Homo sapiens: one gene and its partners. The protein of the gene in region 1 purifies or fractionates together with the protein of each later gene. This does not show direct contact. Each region holds a gene or a part of one and is shown in the gene's direction. Other genes may lie near its edges.

Evidence for each region.
Region 2: the proteins of SART1 (region 1) and MYH10 fractionate together in Homo sapiens (co-fractionation; one large-scale study listed by BioGRID). This does not show direct contact.
Region 3: the proteins of SART1 (region 1) and NCBP3 purify together in Homo sapiens (co-immunoprecipitation; one large-scale study listed by IntAct). This does not show direct contact.
Region 4: the proteins of SART1 (region 1) and SMC4 fractionate together in Homo sapiens (co-fractionation; one large-scale study listed by BioGRID). This does not show direct contact.
Region 5: the proteins of SART1 (region 1) and DDX23 purify together in Homo sapiens (affinity purification with mass spectrometry; 5 studies listed by BioGRID and IntAct, with this or other methods). This does not show direct contact.
Region 6: the proteins of SART1 (region 1) and RBM42 purify together in Homo sapiens (affinity purification with mass spectrometry; 3 studies listed by BioGRID and IntAct, with this or other methods). This does not show direct contact.
Region 7: the proteins of SART1 (region 1) and PRP4K purify together in Homo sapiens (affinity purification with mass spectrometry; 3 studies listed by BioGRID and IntAct, with this or other methods). This does not show direct contact.

Annotation. Positions count from the first base shown.
Region 1 is NC_000011.10:65,971,734-65,975,233, forward strand, and holds part of SART1 (U4/U6.U5 tri-snRNP-associated protein 1), read left to right. Parts: intron 1-3,500. UniProt on the Homo sapiens protein: Plays a role in mRNA splicing as a component of the U4/U6-U5 tri-snRNP, one of the building blocks of the spliceosome. May also bind to DNA.
Region 2 is NC_000017.11:8,624,226-8,627,725, reverse strand, and holds part of MYH10 (myosin-10), read left to right. Parts: intron 1-3,500. UniProt on the Homo sapiens protein: Cellular myosin that appears to play a role in cytokinesis, cell shape, and specialized functions such as secretion and capping. Involved with LARP6 in the stabilization of type I collagen mRNAs for CO1A1 and CO1A2.
Region 3 is NC_000017.11:3,839,747-3,843,246, reverse strand, and holds part of NCBP3 (nuclear cap-binding protein subunit 3), read left to right. Parts: intron 1-95; coding exon 96-161; intron 162-3,041; coding exon 3,042-3,147; intron 3,148-3,500. UniProt on the Homo sapiens protein: Associates with NCBP1/CBP80 to form an alternative cap-binding complex (CBC) which plays a key role in mRNA export. NCBP3 serves as adapter protein linking the capped RNAs (m7GpppG-capped RNA) to NCBP1/CBP80.
Region 4 is NC_000003.12:160,433,052-160,435,453, forward strand, and holds the end of SMC4 (structural maintenance of chromosomes protein 4), read left to right. Parts: coding exon 1-158; intron 159-605; coding exon 606-758; 3' UTR 759-1,902; downstream 1,903-2,402. UniProt on the Homo sapiens protein: Central component of the condensin complex, a complex required for conversion of interphase chromatin into mitotic-like condense chromosomes.
Region 5 is NC_000012.12:48,832,210-48,835,163, reverse strand, and holds part of DDX23 (probable ATP-dependent RNA helicase DDX23), read left to right. Parts: intron 1-666; coding exon 667-844; intron 845-1,644; coding exon 1,645-1,887; intron 1,888-2,590; coding exon 2,591-2,742; intron 2,743-2,954. UniProt on the Homo sapiens protein: Involved in pre-mRNA splicing and its phosphorylated form (by SRPK2) is required for spliceosomal B complex formation.
Region 6 is NC_000019.10:35,632,036-35,635,110, forward strand, and holds part of RBM42 (RNA-binding protein 42), read left to right. Parts: intron 1-900; coding exon 901-966; intron 967-1,041; coding exon 1,042-1,217; intron 1,218-1,651; coding exon 1,652-1,984; intron 1,985-2,220; coding exon 2,221-2,338; intron 2,339-3,075. UniProt on the Homo sapiens protein: Binds (via the RRM domain) to the 3'-untranslated region (UTR) of CDKN1A mRNA.
Region 7 is NC_000006.12:4,059,300-4,062,391, forward strand, and holds part of PRP4K (serine/threonine-protein kinase PRP4 homolog), read left to right. Parts: intron 1-1,113; coding exon 1,114-1,317; 3' UTR 1,318-3,092. UniProt on the Homo sapiens protein: Serine/threonine kinase involved in spliceosomal assembly as well as mitosis and signaling regulation. Connects chromatin mediated regulation of transcription and pre-mRNA splicing.

The DNA of each region.
Region 1 (3,500 bases):
TTTCACAAAGGAGAGGTTCTGTTGATTTCCCCCTGAGTCTAAACTGGGTAATGAGGGACATAACAGAGAATGATGGGTGTGAGGACAGGGCCTGGAGTCGTGATGTGGTTGAAGAATTACTGGATTGAAGTTAATACAGTCAATGAGCTAGAAAGAAAGGCTGGAGAGAACAGAAAGGATCCTTGGAATTGAGGGGTTGTTTTGTTTTGTGATAGTGTCTCACTTTGTCACCCAGGCTGGGGTGCAGTGACTCTATCTCAGCTCACTGCAATTTCCACCTCCTAAAGGTGCTCTGTCCACATACAGTCATTGGGGGTTAGGGCTTCCCGATATGAATTTAGGGGTTACACAATTCCTAGATAGGACAATATATTGTCAAGATGTCCATCTCATGTAGTTCATTTCTAGGTTAAATGCAACTCCAGTAAAAATCCCAATAGGGATTATTTTGGAAGCTGGAAAATGATTCTGAAATTGGATAAAGTAGGGGCATTGTGGCAGTGTGGGATTGCATAAGGATAGACTAACAGAACAGAGAGACCAGACAGCGGGGCCCCGAGACAGAATCGTGTCCCAGTGGGAAGAGTCGCTCGTCAGTGCAGCGAGTGGGCGTGGGACAGTCAGTTATCTATTTGGGGAAAAAATGAAATTGGGTTTATACCTCACACCTTGCAGATAGATTAAGAACTTCAAAGTAAAAACTTCACATTTCGGAATCAAATTAAGGAAATTACATTTATAACTTTTTGGTAGAAAAGATTTTTTAAGTTGTCAGCATAGCCAAGGCAGGAGAATTGCTTGAGGCCAGGAATTTGAGACCAGCCTGGGGCAACACAGCAAGACCACCCCCCCTACCAACCCCATCTCTAAAAATGTTTTTTTAATTAGCTGGGCATGGTAGCATGTGTCTGAAGCCTCAGCTACGCCGGAGGCTAAGGCAGGAGGATTGCTTGAATCTAGGAGTTCGAGGTTATAGTCAGCTATGATAGACTATAGCTGACTATATCACAGATAGCTATGATAGCCTGGGTGATAGAACAAGATCCTGTCTCAAAAAAAAAAAAAAACCAAGAAACCCACAGGTTCCATGGGTGAGTTTCTTCAAGAAACCATGAAGAAAAAAGTGAACGTGTAACTACATAGAAATTGAGAACGTGGCCGGGCGCGATGGCTCACGCCTGTAATCCCAGCACTTTGGGAGGCCAAGGCGGGCGGATCACGAGGTCAGGAGATGAGACCATCCTGGTCAACACAGTGAAACCCTGTCTCTACTAAAAAAAATACAAAAAAATTAACCAGACGTGGTGGCGGGCACCTGTAGTCCCAGCTACTAGGGAGGCTGAGGCAGGAGAATGGTGTGAACCCAGGAGGCGGAGCTTGCAGTGAGCCGAGATCGCACCACTGCACTCCAGCCTGGGTGACAGAGCAAGACTCCGTCTCAAAAAAAAAGAAATTGAGAACGTAAGTTTTTTGTTTTTTGTTTTTTTACAAAACATACCATGAAGAATATAAAAAGGCAGACCAAAAAGAGAAGATATTTGCCCATATATACCACCAAGAATGGGTTGGTGTCAAGAGTATACAAACAGACAAAACAAATCAACACAACAGGAAAATAGGCGAAAGATGTAGATAAGACAGGCAGTTCACAGAAGAGAAAGCCTAACTCACCAGGAAAATACCCGGTGAATCCAGTTTCAGGAGGGATCACAGAAAGGTGAACCAAAACAGTGAGGCACCTGCCACCTGCCAACAATTCCGCAGAAAGGTCCAAGCCTGACAGTAGCGAGTAGGAGTAAAGGACATGGAGCGGCCAGAGTCCTCAGCCACGCTACTCACAGCCATGGGCAGGAGTCTAATCAGATGAGAGGGAATGTGTGCGTGCCCGGGGCCCACCCCACACCTCTCCCGAGTGTGCCCATGTGCACCAGGAGACATTGTCAGTGGGCCTGCAGCCGCAGTACTTGGGACAAAAAAAGTCCATCCTCAGTGGGCTAGAGAGCCAGATCAAGGAGCATCCAGCTCACGGGCTGTGATTCCATAGTGGAAACTGATGAGCTACAGCCGTGTGCATCAGGGTTACTCTCAGGGGCACAGATTTTTTTACAAAACAAATCACAGAAGAGTCATACAGTGTGACTCAGGTTATAGAATAATTAATACACAACAAAATAACTGTTCAGGGGCAGGTCCTTATGTGCTAAAGCCATGAAGACAAGCCGGTGAGTCATGACCATGGATGGGGAGGGGACACTCAAGTCTGGGCAGGGCATTAGTGATGCTGCCCCAGCCCCAGGGAGAGGGACATGGGTGTGTGTTTAGTTAATGTTTTAAAAACTATATCAGCCGCTGGGTGCGGTGGCTCACACCTGTAATATCAGCACTTTGGGAGGCCTAGGCAGGTGGATCACAAGATCAGGAGATTGAGACCATCCTGGCTAACATGGTGAAACCCCCTCTCTACTAAAAAAAAAAAAAAAAAAAAAAAAAATTAGCCGAGCATGGTGGTGCATGCCTGTAATCCCAGCTACTCAGGAGGCTGAGGCAGGAGAATCACTTGAACCCGAGAGGTGGAGGTTGCAGTGAGCCAAGATCGTGCCACTTCACTCCAGCCTGGCCAACAGTGAGACTCTGTCTCAAAAAAAAAAAAAAAAAAAACCATATCAGCCGGGTGTGGTGGTTCACACCTATAGTCCCAGCACTTTGGGAGGCTGAGGTGAGTGGATCACTTGAAGCTGGTTTTGGGACCAGCCTGGGCAACATGGTGAAACCCTGTCTCTACTAAAAATACAAAAATTAGCTGGTTGTGGAGGCATGCACCTGTAGTCCCAGCTACTTAGGAGGCTGAGGGAGGAGGATCACTTGAACCTGGGAGGTGGAGGTTGCAGTGAGCCTATATCGCCCCATTGCACTCCAGCATGGGTGATAGAGTGAGATGGTCTCAATAAATAAGTAGCATATGATGCATTAGATATACCTCGTTTTATGTTTACAATGTTCATTAAAAAATAAGTGTTCCTGGCCAGGCGCGGTGGCTCACGTCTGTAACCCCAACACTTTGGGAGGCCAAGGCAGGCAAATCACGAGGTCAGGAGATGGAGACCATCCAGGCTAGTACGGTGAAACCCCATCTCTACTGAAAAAAAATACAAAAAAATTAGCTGGGCGTGGTGGCGGGCGCCTGTAGTCCCAGCTACTCGGGAGGCTGAGGCAGGAGAATGCTGTGAACCCAGGAGGCGGAGCTTGCAGTGAGCTGAGATCGCGCCACTGCACTCCAGCCTGGGCGACAAAGTGAGACTCTGTCTCAAAAAGAAATAAAAATTAAAAGACAAACAAACAAACAAATGTTCCTGGATGTCCTGGAAGACTTTTTTTTTTTTTTTTTTTGGAGACAGGGTATTGCTCTGTTGCCCAGGCTTGAGTGCAGTGGCAAGATCACGGCTCACCATAGCCTCGGCCTCCAGGCTCAAGCAATCCACCCACCCCAGCCTCCCAAGTAG
Region 2 (3,500 bases), on another chromosome or scaffold:
TCCTGCAAAGCAAATCACTGGTGAGTGGTACACTGTTAAACACCAGTATTATCCAGATTGGGTACCAATGTATTATGGAGTGAAATAAATGTATTTGACAATTACAAGTGAAGAATTAAACTGAACAAAATATCTCCAATGGTCTCATGAACTCTATCAGGTAAACAATAATATGAACACTTAACAGCTGCAAAGCCCTCTGGTACAACGCAGGGTAGGGTAAGAAGAAAGTCAGGAGAACAGTACAAAATGTTAGGAGAAGGAAAAGGATTAAATTGCCACATTGACCTGAAAAGAACTTCTGAAAGGATGGCATTTGGGTCAGGAGTTGAAGGAATAATAGCTTTTTGGTTGTGGAGAAGTTGAATTTCACTATGAGGGTTGGGACCATTCACGTAAATATTGATCAATAGGTACAGATCCCCTGTTATATACCAGGGACTAGACAAAATGCTCAAGATACAGCGTGGAACAGATGACTCTCCTCATAGTGTTTAGTTGTAGAAGAGACTGAAAAGGTGAAAGTCATTGGTAATCCTACTACCCAGTAAAGACCCAATGAATATTTGTTCCGTTTAAAAAAAAAATACACACGTGTATGTAGTTTTCCCCACAAAATTGGGAACATGCTGTGTAATTACACTTTTGTGTTCTACTGGGTTTTTTAAAATACTAAATTACAAGCATTTCCCCATCTAGAAAAAGTACTGATAATATGTAAGATGTCCCAATTTGATAAAATAATTTTAAGATATATAATCTACTGCTTCTAGACCTGTTCTAGAAGTTATTTGTTAAATTATTCTAATTTATAGTCACCTGCTAAATTTAAGCATCTAATTACATGTCCAGTGTAAAATTTAAGAAGTGTGTGCGTGTCTACTGACAGCAAGACAGTTTCCTAAGTGCTCTGTAGGATATGCAGTTTACACCTGATAAGAATAGTAAGAGAAACTTGTCATATTTTGTTATAGTTGAATATTTTCTTTTAATAGATTCTACCCTTCTGAAAGGTGGAGTGTGTATCCTATTATTTGTTCTCAAATTTACCTGTGATGTTTCCCACCTTGAAGCCATGCCTCCTTTCTTCTTTTTTTTTAAATTTTTTATTTTACTTATTATTATTATTATTATTATTATTATTATTTATTATTATTTTGAGACAGAGTCTCATTCTGTTGCCGAGGCTGGAGTGCAGTGGTGTGATTTCAGCTCACTACAACCTCTGCCTCCTGGGCTCAAGTGATCTTCCTGCCTCATCCTCCTGAAGAACTGGGACTGCAGGCCTGTGACACCAAGCCCAGCTAATTTTTTGTATTTTTTGTAGAGACGGGGTTTCGCTATGTTGCCCAGGCTGGTCTTGAACACCTGGACTCGAGCAATCTACCTGCCTCGCCCTCCCAAAGCGCTGGGATTACAGGCGTGAGCCACCCCACCTGGCCTCCTTTCTTTTTACCAGTGTGCAACGTTTAAGTTGGAAAGAGACAACTTGTTAATAGTGTTATTAGACCAGTCCCTAGAGGCTTTTAAAACTGTTATGCAGAATGTACATGTATCTATGAATGTTTTCTGTATTGCCCTCTCCAAAGAGGATGTCTTAGAAGACTAATGCAAGTTTAGGTATAAAATGTGTTAGCAATTTTATTTGTATAGAAGTTTTAATAACATTAATCACATGTTGTGTGATTTTTTGTTTCATCTTATTTTGCGGTTTTTGTTTTATCCAAGTCTATAACCTTTAAGACATCAACATGTTATTTAAATTGTTATGAATTAGTCTAGAATTTGGTTTTCAACCTCTTTTTCTACTCTAACATACCTGCTGGTAGCAGTGGCGCACCATGGCAACCACAGAACTTTGGAGCAATGGTTGTCAAATGTGTCCCAGGACCAGCAGTGGCAGCAGCATCTGGGAACTTGTTAGAAATGCAAATTCTGAGGCTCAGGCTGGACGCGGTGGCTCACGCTTGTAATCCCAGCACTTTGGGAGGCCGAGGCAGGTGGATCACCTGAGGTGAGGAGTTCAAGACCAGCCTGACCAACATGGTGAAACCCCATCTCTATTAAAAATACAAAAATTAGCGGGTCATGGTGCAGGCCTGCCTGTAATCCCAGCTACTTGGGAGGCTGAGGCAAGAGAATCACTTGAACCCTGGAGGCAGAGGTTGCAGTGAGCTGAGATTGCGTCCACTGCACTCCAGCCTGGGCAACAGGGTGAAACTCTGTCTCAAAAAAAAAAAAAATAGTTCTCAGGCTCTACCCTATACCTACTGAATCAGGGACTCTGGGATAGAGCCCAGCAATCTGTATTTTAATAAACCCTCTAGGTGCTGCAAATGCATGCCTGAATTTGACAGCCGCTACTATAGAAGATGAGTGTTTGTAACGCATTACATTGCAACAAGTAATTTCTGAAGAATCTTAGCTATTTGGTTCTAGTAAATTATTTTTTTAAATTTATTTTTGTTTGTTTTTGAGACGGAGTCTTGCTCTGTCACCCAGCCTGGAGTGCAGTGGCACGATCTCAGCTCACTGCAACCTCCGCCTCTCAGGTTCAAGCAATTCTCCTGCCTCAGCCTCCTGAGTGGCTGGGATTACAGGCACCCACCACCACGCCTGGCTAATTTTTTGTTATTTTTGGTGGAGATGGGGTTTCACCATGTTGGCCAGGCTGGTCTCGAACTTCTGACCTCAGGTGATCCACCCATCTCGGCCTCCCAAAGTGCTAGGATTATAGGCATGAGCTACTGCACCCAGCTGGTTCTAGTAAATTATTAGTAGTAGTTAAAGGGCTAGATATGCACCAACACGCCTGGCTAATTTTTAAATTTTTCTGTAGAGGCGGGATCTTGCTATGTTGCCCAGGCTGGTCTCAAATATTTGGCTTCAAGCACTCCTCCCACCTTAGCCCCTCAAGTTGCTGAGATAACAGTTATGGGCCATTGTGCCCAGAAGTTGGTTGAATGTGTAACCACTATCAGTGATTAATCTTTTAGGATACAGATAGAGCCCTTTAGAATCTAGAGAACGTTATAGCACATATATACACACGCTAAGTGCATAATATTTTTATACCATTTCAGGGATTTTGTTGAAGTTGAGATTAGCTGATGGACTCAAGAACCTCTTAACAACCTTAGACTACTTTATGATTTCCTCTTGCCTACAAAGAACCTCTAGCATTTTTGGCTAGGGGAGTGGAGTGAACAGAGGGGAGAAGTGGGGATTTGATAGAGCAAGAGTAGGTACTCAGTTGGCTTCTTCTGTTGGTTTGAATGAAGTGATGGAAGCCATGCCTATGAAATTTATAATAACCTGGAATTTGGAGTAGCAGCAAAAATGTTTAAGTTGGTATCAAATCCCAAAAAGATCCTGTCAGGCAATCATGATGAGTCACATTAGAAAGATGATGGATGTAAAATCCTGCCATTTGGTCCAGAAAGCCAGTGCACAAGTAGAGGAGGGGACATAGCTTAGCCACAAAGTGATGGAGCTTCCTC
Region 3 (3,500 bases), on another chromosome or scaffold:
AAAGGAAAAAAGAACCTGCAGATGTCAGGCCGACTTTTATTATAGGTTTTTCCTCAATTGCTGTCTGAATTTCTCACCCTTCCCCTTTGTGTTAGGACACGAGCAGAAGATATGAAAACAAGGCTGGCAGCTTCATCACTGGAATTGATGTCACCTCCAAGGTAAGACAGGCTATGATTTATTTATTCAGCTTGATAAGCAAGTGAACTTAATGAATTTGATCCCTAGGACATAACAGTAAATATTTCCTCTTTTATTTTGTTGCTGGATTTAAATTTTTTTTCTAAAAAAAATTGTGTTATTGGCCAGGCACGCTGGCTCATGCCTGTAATCCTAGCATTTTGAGAGGCCAAGCAAGTGGATCGTTTAAGCCCAGGAGTTCGAGACCAGCCTGGGCAACATAGTGAGACCCGTCTCTACGAAAGATACAAAAATTAGTCGGGTGTGGTAGCACAGGTCTGTAGTCCCAACTACTCAAGAGGCTGAGGTGGGAGGATCGCTGGAGCCTGAGAGGTTGAGGCTGCACTGAGCTGAAATCGTGCCACTGCACTCCAGTGGGGGCAACAAAAAAAAATTTTGTGTTATACAACGATGTCTTCATGCATCCTGAAACGGTACAGGCAGCATTTGTGTGTTCTTACAGCCATGAAAGGATAAAATCACTCTACTTAGATACCTGTGTTGAACCGTTTCCAAGAAAATGTCCAAGACGGGGGATGCTTTTTTAAATGGTATGTCCATTTCTAAAAAAATGTGTACTGTTTCCACTTGAAATGAAACAAAACATGAAAAGTGCCTGGCAGATGGTAGGCCCCCCATATTTAGGTGGAGTCTCGCTCCGTTGCCCAGGCTGGAGTGCAGTGGTGCGATCTCGGCTCACTGCAGCCTCCACCTCCTGGGTTCCAGCGATTCTTCTGCCTCAGCCTCCTGAGTAGGTAGGACTACAGGCGCCCGCCACCACGCCTGGCTAATTTTTGTAATTTTAGTAGAGACAGGGTTTCATTGTATTGGTCAGGCTGGTCTTGAATTCCTGACTTCAGGTGATCCACCTGCCTCAGCCTCCCGAAGTGCTGGGATTCCAGGTGTAAGCCACCGTGTCGGCATAATAGGCCCTTAATAAGACTATTGCCTTGTATCTGATGATTGCTATTACCAGATTACCACCTTCATTGTAACACCTCATAGAGTCAAGCCTATTATTTTCCTTATATGTAGTCAATACATGTAAGTTGCTTTAATCAGTGATGTTCCGTTTTAGACATTTTTTCTGATTTTAATGTTTACAGTTAAGTTTGGAACAGAATTTTGTATTACATTTCTGAATAATAGTATATATTGCTGTATTGAATACATAAAAGCAAAAATAAAAATATATTTCGTGCCTTCCTTTTTATAGTGTTTTTTTTTTTTTTTTGAGACAGAGTCTCACTCTGTCACCCAGGCTGGAGTTCAGGGGTGCGATCACGGCTCACTGCAACCTCTGCCTCCTGGATTCAATTGATCCCTCTGCCTCAGCCTCCCGAGTAGCTGGGACTACAGGTGGATGCTATCATGCCCAGCTAACCTTTTTATGGTTTATCTGTGTCTCTTGTGTTTCCAATCACTTAAAGGCCCCCCATCCCCGCAAAAAAAAAAAAAAAAAAAGAGAGAGAATTGGTCATCTTTTAGACAAGAAAAGAGAATAAAGTGAAAATCTTTTCTTACTGTAATTGAAAAAGTAAACTATTCATAATCTTACACTGTTTGCCATTATATGACACAGGTATATGGGAAAAGGGTGATAGTCTCAGAGTTAGTACTTTGTTTCTAAAGGAAGGTAAATTGTTGTTTGTACTAGGAAGACTTCAGTGAAGAAAATGAGCGTTAACTATTGGGAAAGAACAGAAGTGTTGCAACTTTACCAATCCCCACAAGCTCTCTGTAGTCAGACCTTCAATTAGTGTGGCAAAGTCAATATACAATTAGTGAAGGGGACTGGGCGCGGTGGCTCACATCTGTAATCCTGGCACTTTGGGAGGCCGAGGCAGGCAGATCACGAGGTCAAGAGATCGAGACCATCCTGGCCAACATGGTGAAACCCCGTCTCTACTAAAAATACAAAAATTAGCTGGGCGTGGTGGTGTGCACCTGCAGTCCCAGCTACTCAGGAGGCTAAGGCAGGAGAATCTCTTGAACCCGGGAGGCGGAGGTTGCTGTGAGCTGAGATCGTGGCAGCCTGGCGACAGAGTGAGAGTCCGTCTCAAAAACAAAAACAAACAAAACCAATTAGTGAAGGGTTCCTAAGAGCCATCAGAAACCCACAGTTGGACCTGGGTTTATTTTAGCTCTTAGAAGAAACTTACAAAGCTGATTATTTTTTCAGTAAAGTGTCAATGGTTCTTATCACTTAGAGATGAAAACTGGTGATTCCGTGGACACGAGGCTGGAAGAGGAGGGAGAGTTTCTTTGCTTCGGTGTTATTTTTAAACAGACTAGCTTTAGGGAGTGGACTGCTCAGGCAGTTATAATGTGGAAGAGCGTGATAGGTGTGATTACCATTGCTCAGACAATGTGAAGTGGTTGTAGGTGGGCTCCTAGAAATAGCACTGGAATCAGATCTGCTTGCTTAATAGCTGAAGTATCTCCAGCAAACCTTTTTGCTTTTTTGTGCCTCCATTTCTGCACCTGGAAAATTGGGATGTTGAAATTGTTTAGTTGTAATTTGTTGGCATAATTGATAATAACAAATGAAGTGTCATATAACTTTATAAACTTTAAAGGACTATTCATTCAGTCAGCAGATACTCACTGAGTTCCTACTATGTCCCAGGCACAGTGATAGGCTGTGTTATGTCGGAGATGGTTGCAAATTACAGCGATATTAACATATCCCCCCAGTCATTGAGTGTGAATATCCAGGTCTCTGCCAGACTGATTCAAGGTGTAGTGTTGCTTATTTCTTCTTTTTTAGTTCAGGTTTGTCACTGATGCATCATGATGCATGTGTGATTTAACTCGCCTTCTCCATATTTTACTACTTTCACTTTTTCTGTACTTTCTAGGAAGCAATTGAAAAGAAAGAGCAGCGAGCCAAGCGCTTCCATTTTCGATCGGAAGTAAATCTTGCCCAAAGAAATGTAGCCTTGGACCGAGACATGATGAAGAAAGGTACAGGGTGTTTTGTGGGAAATTTGTCCACATTTCCCCAGAGAGTGCCTTTTCCCTGCCATCACCTCATGCTTCTGGCCTTGCCTTGCGTGTCCACTCCTTATCCAAGCACTCTTGTGAGAAGGGACCTGTGAAGTCTCCATTTCTGAGGTCACCTGTTTAAAGTTCAGATGCTGTCAGCTGGCTCAGATGTTAGAGCTGGGAAATAAGAGATTGTCTTTTCTGAGGAGGCCCAGAAAAAGTTACCAGTTAGTGGCAGAGCTGAGATTCGAACCTGTGCTTCTAAGGACCCTTACTCATTTTCTCCTTTTATCGTAGAGGTGTTAACTTTTCTTTGCCTTTAAACGTAGTGA
Region 4 (2,402 bases), on another chromosome or scaffold:
AAAAGATCTTCAACCTTTCGGGAGGAGAGAAAACACTTAGTTCATTGGCTTTAGTATTTGCTCTTCACCACTACAAGCCCACTCCCCTTTACTTCATGGATGAGATTGATGCAGCCCTTGATTTTAAAAATGTGTCCATTGTTGCATTTTATATATATGTAAGTAATCATTTTGGGATTTTCATTCCAGAAACTTTTAGGGGTATCCTAAACATTACACATGGAATTCTTTATTTCTTACAATTGAGCTTTTTCTTTATTGTCTAATAACTCCATCTCCATCTCCTCTGGTATCAGTGGAGACCAAATTATTTTTTATTTGAACCAAATATTTCCATTTTGGAGGAGTAAAATATAAATTAAAAATGCAAATTAGTAGCAGAATCACAGCTAGAATCCTAGGTCATCTTCCTAGATCTTTTCCACTAGAAGTCAAAATAACCAAATTCCTTTCACACTCAAATACTGTTTTATGAATTATTCCTGCCATCATTCCTTTACATGTTATCAATGTAATGTTTATTGTCCAAAAAATATTTGAGGTTACATGTTTGTGTGATTTACCTGTTATTACTTAATGTTTGACTTTTCTTTGTTTCTCTTTAGGAACAAACAAAAAATGCACAGTTCATAATAATTTCTCTTCGAAATAATATGTTTGAGATTTCGGATAGACTTATTGGAATTTACAAGACATACAACATAACAAAAAGTGTTGCTGTAAATCCAAAAGAAATTGCATCTAAGGGACTTTGTTGAACTTTATGCTGAAGATTCTTCAAGTTGATTCAGTGTATTACTGATTTTTTTCTATTTGTAAAGGATTATGAGTTGTATAAAATACATACTCCCTAAACTAGATCATGAAACTGGTTTCTGTTTTATGCAGTTGTCATTTGTAAAGTCTAATAAAATATTCTCTATAATTGCTTCTAGATTACAAAAATATGACAATCTTGTAAGTAGCAGACTATGGAGAAAAATGAGTTACCTGGAGGGTCAGGTAACTTGCCAAACTAAAAAGTATGTTAGTTGAGGCAAAGTCCTAAGCAAGGTTGTGCTATCAAGGCTCAGCATACCTTCGTGGGCCTTTGATTTACCAACACTGGAAATGCCTGCCAACTAATCTTGGATAGATTCTTTAAGGCATTCCACTTAGCTTGCCAGTTGAGACAATCACCACAGTTATTACCCAAATACTATGAACATATTTTTGTAAACCAGTCATTCTGAATTATAGTGATGAGAATTTAAATATATGCTTTTCTAGAATTTGATGTTTGACCATTTATGACTTAATTACCAGAGAGCCAGTAAATTAGGACAGTGTTTCAACAAGCCTAGGCTATCTCGTAAGTTGAAAAATATCCCACTATAGTTGCTTCATGAGTATGAAGTAAGATGGCCTCTGATTTACACTGGTTCAATTTACAAATTTTCAACTTTATGATAGGTTTATCCGGGTACTAAATGCATTTCAACTTGATAGTTTCAACTTATGATAGGTTTACCAGGATGTAGTCCCACTGTTGAGGAGCATCTATTTAGGGGTTAATTACTTTAGTAATAAGTGGAAAGTAAGATACCTTGAGTAATGTTTGCCTATAAAATTGTCAGCGTATTTTTACACTATTGGCTCAAGAATGTTATAATGCTAAGGGACATAAGTTGGCAACCACTTGGTTTTTGGAAGGACTTTCGGTATTGTATTAGAAGTCTGCCCTAGCTGTTAAATTTCTGGGTATTTATCCTAAGGAATTAATTAAAGAGTTAATTGTTCCTTTCTTCAGTGGGCCATTGTTTTAGATATTTAAAAAATCCAACAGTTTCTATCATAATGTAACTGTAAAAATGTAAACACATTATTAGCATGGACTTTTAAATAAAGATTTAAAGAAAGCAAGATCGGAAATTCAAGTACGGTAATTTGTTCTAAATCAAGAATATATAAGGGAAAAGTAAGTTTAAAGTGCTATAATGATAATCAAGTGTTTTCATTTGGTGCGAAAATAGAATTTAATACTTTTATTATATTTTAATAACCAATGCAGTAGAGCTCAGATTTTTTTTTTTTTTTTGAAAGTCTCACTGCATCACCCAGGGTGGAGTGCTGTGGCAAGATCTTGGCTCACTGCAACCCTGCCTCACGGGTTCAAGCGATTCAAGTGCCTCAGCCACATGAGTAGCTGGGACTACAGGTGCACACCACAGTGCCCAGCTAATTTTTGTGTTTTTGGTAGACAGGGTTTTGCCATGTTGGCCAAGCTGGTCTCAAACTCCTGGCCTCAAGTGATCTGCCTGCCTCAGCCTCCCAAAGTGCTGGACTATAGGCATGAGCCACTGCACCCAGCCTGCAGTACTAAGTTTCAAAGAATTAGAAGTACCCAGAACCCATGTGAAAAT
Region 5 (2,954 bases), on another chromosome or scaffold:
CTCATATCCTCCTACCTCAGCCTCCCAAGTAGCTGGGATTACAGGTGTGTTCGAACATGCCCAGCTAATTTTTGTATTTTTTGTAGAAACAGGGTTTTACCATGTTGCCTAGACTGGTCTCAAACTCCTGGGCTCAAGTGATTCACTCACCTCAGCCTCCGAAAGTGCTCGGATTATAGGCTTGTGCCACCTTGCCTGGCCTCTGGACTTATTTTTATTTTTATTTTTTTTGGAGACAGAGTGTCTCTGTCACCCAGGCTGGAGTGCAGTGGCGTGATCTCAGCTCACTGCAACCTCTGTCTCCTGGGTTCAAGCGATTCTTCTGCCTCAGCCTCCCGAGTAGCTGGTATTACAGGCGCCGGCCACCACGCCTGGCTAATTTTTGTATTTTTATTAGAGGCAGGGTTTCACCATGTTGGCCAGGCTGGTCTCAAACTCCTGACTTCAGGTGATCCGCCTGCCTCAGCCTCCCAAAGTTCTGGGATTACAGACATGAGCCACCATGCCCAGCCCTGGCCTCTGATTTTTAAGTGAGATCATTGCATTCTTTTCTCATCATCCTCCCCATTCCCATTGCTCCCCGTAAGAGTGACTTTGTCTTGCTCTGGCTTGTGGTTGGATAAGAACCAAAGCTCACGAAGCTGTGGGGCACCCTGTTTACCACAGGATCGAAGAGTCAGACCAAGGCCCTTATGCCATCATCCTGGCTCCCACCCGTGAGTTGGCTCAACAGATTGAGGAAGAGACCATCAAGTTTGGGAAACCGCTAGGTATCCGCACTGTGGCTGTCATTGGTGGCATCTCCAGAGAAGACCAGGGCTTCAGGCTGCGCATGGGTTGTGAGGTTTGTTTTTCTATCTAGCAGCCAGCCTGCTGTCTGGGAAGGCTATCTTGGGGCTTTGTTTCTAGTTTCTGGAATATATGTGCAGTAGTATGAAGAAAGGAGCTGGTTTATATATATGTGCTATTTATTGAGAACTTATGCACCAGGGTTTATATCACAAATAGTATATATCATATATATTAGCTCATTAATTCTCACAATAATGTATGAGAGTGGTATTTCCTTGTTATAGATCAAGCTGAGGTTCAGGTTAATAACTGCCTGAAGTCACAAACAGCTGGCAATGGGCAGAGCTGAGACTCATATCCATAGCCTGTGCTTTTAGTTACTCTTTACTCTGCCAGACCAAATCTTTGACTTTGTGCATTGCCTTCATCTCAGGAAAGTGGAGGAGAGCTCTTTATGAGAAGTCTGCTGTAGAAATTTAGTCTTTTTACAATTTTTTAAAAAAATTTAGTCTTTATACAACCCCCTTCATAGTACCCCTTAGTCTCTCCCATCTAAGAAGTTCCTTCTTCAGGATCTGAAATGATTTGCCAAAAAAAAAAAAGTTTCTACTGATTTTGCCTCCTCTGTCTAATCCTTGCACCTTACTCAGAGACCTCATTCATTCCTGAGAAAATCCAGGCAACAAGTGATTTCATGCCAGTTTGCAGGAGCCTTTACTGCTAAACATAACCAGAGGTTGGGGTCCAAGTTCCTCAGCATTGGAGGTCTGTCACCCAAGTGGGTGGATAGTTCACAGGAAAGAAAAGAAGGGGCACCTGCTGGGCTATAAATGATTATACTGTACTCCTCAGATTGTGATTGCTACCCCTGGGCGTTTGATTGATGTGCTGGAGAACCGCTACCTGGTGCTGAGCCGCTGTACCTATGTGGTTCTGGATGAGGCAGATAGGATGATTGACATGGGCTTTGAGCCAGATGTCCAGAAGATCCTGGAGCACATGCCTGTCAGCAACCAGAAGCCAGACACGGATGAGGCTGAGGACCCTGAGAAGATGCTGGCCAACTTTGAGTCGGGAAAACATAAGTACCGCCAAGTAAGGCTGCTTCCCTGGGCTGGGAAAAGTTGGACAGGCCAAGGCGGGTGGATCACTTGAGCTCAGGAGTTTGAGACCAGCCTGGGCAACATGGCGAAACTCCGTCTCTACAAAAATTTAAAAAATTAGCTGGGCATTGGTGGTGCACACCTGTGGTGCCAGCCACTCAGGAGGCTGAGGTGGGAGGACCTCTTAAGCCTGGGAGGCAGTGGTCGCAGTGAGCTGAGGTCGTGCCACTACTCCATTCCATCCTGGGCAACAGAGTGAGGCCCTGTCTCAAAAAAAAAGAAAAGTTGTACAAGGTTGCCAACCTCCTTTTGGGCCTTTCTTGCCTTAGGTGGGCTCAGAGTACATGTTTCTAGAATGAAGTGTGCCTAGGTACAGTCCTCTGACAGTCCTAAGGGTGGAGCCATTTAGCTTAGCCCTGGAAAAACGATTCCAAAGACTCATGCTGCTACCGGGACCACAGGTGCTAGCAAATGCTCTCAATCCTTCCTGTCATCATAAGATGGAAAGTGCCTTGATGAGCAGGTACTCAGGAAGGATGGGAATTCAGAGGACACTATTTTCTAAGGTGGTGGCTATCAAAGCCTATACTGTGGCCCATTTTAGATTCTTTAGTCTGGGCTGACCTGCCTTCGGTGACAGTGGGATATATGATTATTCCTGCCTGGGTGCAGGGCTGAGCCTCCTGTTTTCGTAGACAGTCATGTTCACGGCCACCATGCCCCCAGCGGTGGAGCGTCTGGCCAGGAGCTATCTTCGGCGACCTGCTGTGGTGTACATTGGCTCCGCAGGCAAGCCCCATGAGCGTGTGGAACAGAAGGTCTTCCTCATGTCAGAGTCAGAAAAGAGGTATGAGGGCAGCTGAGCCAGGGGAAACAGGGTGGAGAATAAAATGGCTCTGAGAACTTTTTTAGTGCAGGTGCAGGGCAGGGCAATTGCTCTGCTGTGTTGAAGAGCTGCTGTTTTCTTGGGCAGAATGTCATGGGCATTAAAGACCCTGAAAGTAGTGTTCATAGATGAGGGTTGGGCATTTCACTTGGAGTGGGAGGTATTATGCATCT
Region 6 (3,075 bases), on another chromosome or scaffold:
TAGGACATTACTTCCTTATATGTATGAAAAGGATGCGTGTTCTTACTTGGATGTAAAATTCTGGTATAATCTCGGTTAAACCAAACGTGCTACTTATGTTACCTAAATCCTGTTATACTTATTAATCTGATGATCTCTGAGAAGTTGTAATGTCTCTTACTTTTTAGTATGGTTTTGATCAAAATGCAAATCTGACCTACTTCCCCTGCCCAGCTTCCAACCCTGCTGTGGCTCCCCAGTGCCCTCAGGAGGACACCCATGGCTCAGCCAAGAATGCTGTGCTTTAAGAACAAAAAAGCTCTACTGGGGTGCCTGCTGGCTGCTCAGCCCTTCTCATGACACTCTCTAAGCCCCACTACTTCTATTACAGTTACACTAAACTGAAAAGGGAAAGGTTTTGCTTATAAATATTCTTCCTGCCAATAATATTCCCACTCACCCCTTGCCTAACACTTCATTGCCCCTTGGGTCTCAGCTCACAGGTCCCTTTCTCCAGGAAGCCTTCCCTGGGCCTGGCTGGGTCAGAGGGCTCCCCTCTCTTAGCACTGATCCCACTGCCTGGGCTTCCCTGCTTCCAGCGCTGGTCCCCACTGGCTCTCCTTCTCTAGTGATGTCTCCATTCCCTCCTCCTCTGGACCAGGAGCTCCCTGAGAACCCTGGGTCTGTTGGTGTGTCCCCAGCATTGCCTGCCACAGGGCTGAGCCAGAGGAGCTTCTCAGTGGTAAATTTTCATGGAATGAACCAGGGGAGAGGCCCCCACATCTCCAGGAGGGCTCCCCAGACTCTTCTCCAGGATTTCTTGATGCTGAGAGTGCACACACACACACGCATGCACACACACACCTTGTCCCAAGTGCCCCTGTCCCCCATGACACACACCCCCATCTCTCTCTCCCACAGCTGTGGCCCCCCAGAGGGCCCCTATCCTGCGTCCAGCCTTCGTCCCCCACGTGCTACAGAGAGCAGGTGAGGGGCCAGGGTCATCATCCCTGCCACATAACTCCCCCCAGGCCCTGGAACTCCCCACTAACACCCTGACAGATTCCGCTCTCTCCTCTGCAGCAGCCGGCCCCCGCCCTATGGCCCTACGGCCCCCTCACCAGGCCCTCGTGGGCCCCCCTCTGCCTGGGCCCCCTGGACCACCCATGATGCTGCCACCAATGGCTCGGGCTCCAGGGCCCCCGCTGGGCTCCATGGCTGCACTGAGGCCCCCTCTGGTGAGTGTGAACAGGGAACTAACGGTCAGATGTGCGGTGGACGGGGAGACCATCCATCCTGGCCCAATGGGCTATGTCTGAGTTGGCCTCTCTCCTGACTTTCTGTTTCTCTACCTTCTCACTCTGCCTTTGTCTCTGTCTCTTTCTGCATCTTTCTGTGGCAAAATCTGTTCTCTCCTTTTGTGAAGGGAGTACAGAGAGAAACATGCTATTGGAATATTTCTCTTTTGATTGTTACTGATGTTCTTGTCTGTGGCTGTCTCTCTCTGCCTGTGTTTCTCCTTCTCTGTGTTTGTCTGGCTGGAGACTCTCTGCTTGGGTGTCTCTTGGCTGCTCTCTGGCCCCCAGGCCCTTTCTTTGTTGGATGGAATGGAGATGACAGTAAAGTCTGAGCCTGTGAGCCGGCCCCCCTCATGCTCTCCTCTTACCCACAGGAAGAGCCAGCAGCACCCCGAGAGCTGGGCCTAGGCCTGGGGTTGGGCCTGAAAGAGAAGGAAGAGGCAGTGGTGGCGGCGGCGGCTGGGCTGGAGGAGGCTAGCGCGGCTGTGGCCGTGGGGGCAGGAGGTGCCCCAGCTGGCCCTGCAGTCATTGGGCCCAGCCTGCCGCTGGCCCTGGCCATGCCATTGCCCGAGCCTGAGCCCCTGCCCCTCCCGTTGGAGGTCGTCCGCGGCCTCCTGCCCCCGCTGCGCATTCCTGAACTCCTGTCCCTGCGTCCTCGGCCCCGGCCCCCTCGGCCAGAGCCACCCCCAGGCCTCATGGCTCTTGAGGTAAGCAGGGAGCCTAGCGGTGAAGGGACAGAAGGGACGGGGGGCAGACAGGAGCCCAGGAACTTCCACACAGACAGACCGGACAGCAGGAGGACCTGGGGGAGGGAGGCGGACACATGTGCCCCACATCCAGAAGCACATCCAGCCCTTACTGTGGTGGCAGGAGGGCCGGGGACCAAAGGACAGTGGGAGACCCCAATACCAACCCCTTTGCACCTCTCCCCTTTCCTCTGCAGGTCCCAGAGCCCCTGGGTGAAGACAAGAAGAAGGGGAAGCCAGAGAAATTGAAACGGTGCATTCGCACAGCGGCAGGGAGCAGCTGGGAGGACCCCAGCCTGCTGGAGTGGGATGCAGGTAAGCTGCTGAAGCTCGAGGTCAGGCGTGGCTCGGCCAAGGTCAGACCAGGCTGCTGTCCTTGGGCTGCAGACTGGGAGGGTGAACCCTCTCAGTAGGGTGGGCGCTGTTGTTAGCCCACCTTGGGGAGGGGAGGCTATGGCTCAGGGGCTGGTTCTTCACCTAGCCATGGGCCGGAGCTTGGTGGAGGTGACGGGGACATGGGGCTTTGTAGCCTGTTTTACTCATGAGGTGCCTGGCTTCAGAGAGCATTCTTTTTTTTTCCCAACTCTTAGGATAAAAATTTTTTTTTTTTTTTTTTATGAGACAGAGTACCACTCTGTCGCCCAGGCTGCAGTGCAGTGGCGCAATCTTGGCTCACTGCAGCCTCCGCCCCCCAGGTTCAAGTGATTCTCCTGCCTCAGCCTCCCAAAGTGCTGGGATTACAGGCATGAGCCACTGTACCTGGCCGGGAAAAATTTTAAACACAGATGGCACAGTAAACACCCGTCTACCCACCACCTAGATTCTGCAATTAACATTTTGCTGTGTTCACTTTTTTCCTCTTTGTGTATGTATCTGGTTTCTTTGTTTTTAGCTCAGTCATTTGAAGCAAGTTATAAGTGAATTAATCACTTCTAAATATCTCAGTATTTATCTCCTAAGAAAAGAGATATTTTGGCCAGGCACGGTGGCTCACACCTGTAATCCCAGCACTTTGGGAGGCGGAGGCAGGTGGATCACTTGAGGTCAGGAGT
Region 7 (3,092 bases), on another chromosome or scaffold:
GGTTCAGACCTTTGTGCCTTTGCTAACAGACCTCCCTGAGCTTAGTCATTTCCTGTGCTGCCTCACCCCCAACCCCCTAAAAAATGTATCATCTTCAAGCCTCAGCTGAAATACACATTCTGTATGAGCCTTTTGAAAACTCCCAGATTGAAGTAATGATTTCCTTATTTTTGTCCCATTATTATAGCATATGTCCCTGTCTTTGTCAGAGCACTTAATAATACTTCAGGGTATTAACTTATTCACATGTCTGTCACTTACCACTTCAAGGTAGGGAAAGTACAGTGCAAACAGCTCATGCTTATCTTATTGTAAATTTTCATTGCTAACTTGGAGTTGACTTTTTTTTTCTTTTTTGAGACTGAGTCTCGCTCTGTCACCTGTCACCCAGGGTGAAGTGCAATGGCACGATCTTGGCTCACAGCAACCTCTGCCTCCCAGGTTCAAGCAATTCTCATGCCTCAGCCTCCCGAGTAGCTGGGATTACAATTGTGTGCCACCACGCCTGGATAATTTTTGTATTTTTAGTAGAGATGGGTTTTGCAGTGTTGCCCAGGCTGGTCTCGAATTCCTGAGCTCAAGTGATCCACCTACCTTGGGCTTCCAAAGTGCTGGGATTACAGGTGTGAGCCACCGCGCCCAGCCCAGAGTTGGCATCAACTTTTTCATTTAAGTTTTTTGGTTACCTTTTAAAAAGATGTACAGCATAGAGGAAACCACAGCAAAGTTTTAAATGAATAGATGATGATGATACAGTCATGCGTCACATAACCACAGCATACACTCACACACATCTAGGGTAAGTAGTATGGCCTTTTGCTTCTAGGCCTGAACTGTAAGTTGGTGGACTGAATACTGTAGGCACTTTTGCAAGTGGTAAGTGTATGTATGTATCTAAACATAGAAAAGGGAGAGCAAAAATACGGTATTCCAATCTTAAGGGACCACTGTCATATATGCAGTCTGTCATTGCCCAAAATGTGCACTGTGTGTATATATTTTGTATGTATATGCATGTTTTTAATATTTTTGATAGACCCCAAAACAATCTGATTTAAGTTGTATATGCTTAGTAACTTATTTAGAGATACGCATTTTAAAAATTATTTTTAGGAGAAAGTTACTGTTATGAGCACCATTAATCCAACTAAGGACCTGTTGGCTGACTTGATTGGGTGCCAGAGACTTCCTGAAGACCAACGTAAGAAAGTACACCAGCTAAAGGACTTGTTGGACCAGATTCTGATGTTGGACCCAGCTAAACGAATTAGCATCAACCAGGCCCTACAGCACGCCTTCATCCAGGAAAAAATTTAAACAAGATGAAGAAACTCCAAGGGTTTGAGTAAATACAAAGACTGAAGAAATTTCACAGCAGTTTATTAATGTATATAAACTTATAAATATTTCTCCAGCAAATTTGAGGAAGCATGATATATTTGAATTAACACCAAGGGTGATATTTCTTTTAGAGATGTTAGTTAATCTGTTTTGTGTCTTACGTGAAATTTCACTGTAGACTGTTTTAAATTGCCAAGACTGCACAAAATTACAGTGCTAATGTATATGGTTGCAGTTCACATAAAGACAAAAGCATCTGTTATGAAATGAGTAGTAATATTGGGTGGTTGATTTGTTCTTAGCAGACTTGGCTTCATTTTGGTCTTGAGATAAAATGGCCAGCATAAATGCTGTTTATATTCACGTTTTCCTAGGTGTGTGTGTGCAGGCCACAGCAGCATGCCCTTGGTGTAGTCAGTGCCGAAAGGGGTCTGTTCCTTCTTGAGCCTGCCTGCAGGGATGGTCTCCTTTTAAAGCAGGTTGTGTGCAGCATTCAGTACACTGAAGGTAAGCTAAACCATCAACATCTCTGGTGTTTTAAGATGTTATTTTATTGGAACAACTGACAAATGAGGGATGTTAGCTTTGTGGCAGAATTCCCTGCATGTGTGATAACTGATCTTGTTTTATTTTTTGGCATTGCAACTGTGGCATAGTTACAATTTCTGTTTGTTCATCACATTTAAAATTGGAAGAGAACGCGCTTGATGGATAGAGCGCCTTCAGTGTACTGTTTCTTATTAACTTTACTTTTTTTAAATCAACTTGCTATAGACTTTATATACATTTTGTTAAATATAGTTCCTAGTGACATAGAAACGATGCGTAGTTTTCATTTACTAATTACAAATGTTGAGGCCTAATTCTGAAAGTCCTCATATTTAAAGGCTAGACAACGTAATGAAATTTTTAACTATTTGTATGTCATTTTGAAAGTGTACTGCTTTATGGTAAAAGTGTTTTTCATTTGTTCATTGTTTTCATTATTTGTGATCATGTTGTCTTTCAATACAGGCATAAACCTTCCACTCTTGAACAAAGCAGCTGCTTTTTAAAAGCGGTAATTGCTTCTTTACCTTTTATTTCTTTTGTAAATGAAGCTTTTCTTTAAGAATGTGACTTTAAAGTGTTGTCTATTGCATAAAACAGTTGACACTCACTTATTGTAAAGTGAAGATTGTTCTACTGCATGTGAAGTGGACCATGCAGATTTCTGTATGTTCTCAGTATGCATCACTAGATAATAAAGTCTTTTGTGAACAAGGCATTTGTAGCCATTTTTAAAAGTTTTTGTCTTCAGTGCTGGTAAGTCAGGTAAACCATAAATAGTTAAAAGCAACCTTTTGTTTTTTTCCTGAAAGTTTTTAATTGAAAGTATTATTAGTTAAAGATGTAAACCTAGCCAAAATTACCAGTTTATTAATAATTAGGATCCTAATTATTTCAAAAAATCCTACAAATATTGTCAGCTTTCAGTGTAGTGAGATTATTCCTGTAGGTTATGGGGTATAATTCAGGATTTAACTAATGTTTCTGCTATTTTCTCACTTTTCCTTTTGATGGTGCGGAAAGAGAAAAAGGAAAACGGGGCACAGGCCATTCGACGCCTTCTCCAAGGGGTCTGATTTGCTGAGACACCAGCTTCACCTTCTTAACAAGGTTATTTCTGACAGCATGTGTAGATAAACATTTAGCAACAATTTAAGACAAAATCGTTTAAATCAGCTTGGTTTTGCAACACAAAGGAATTT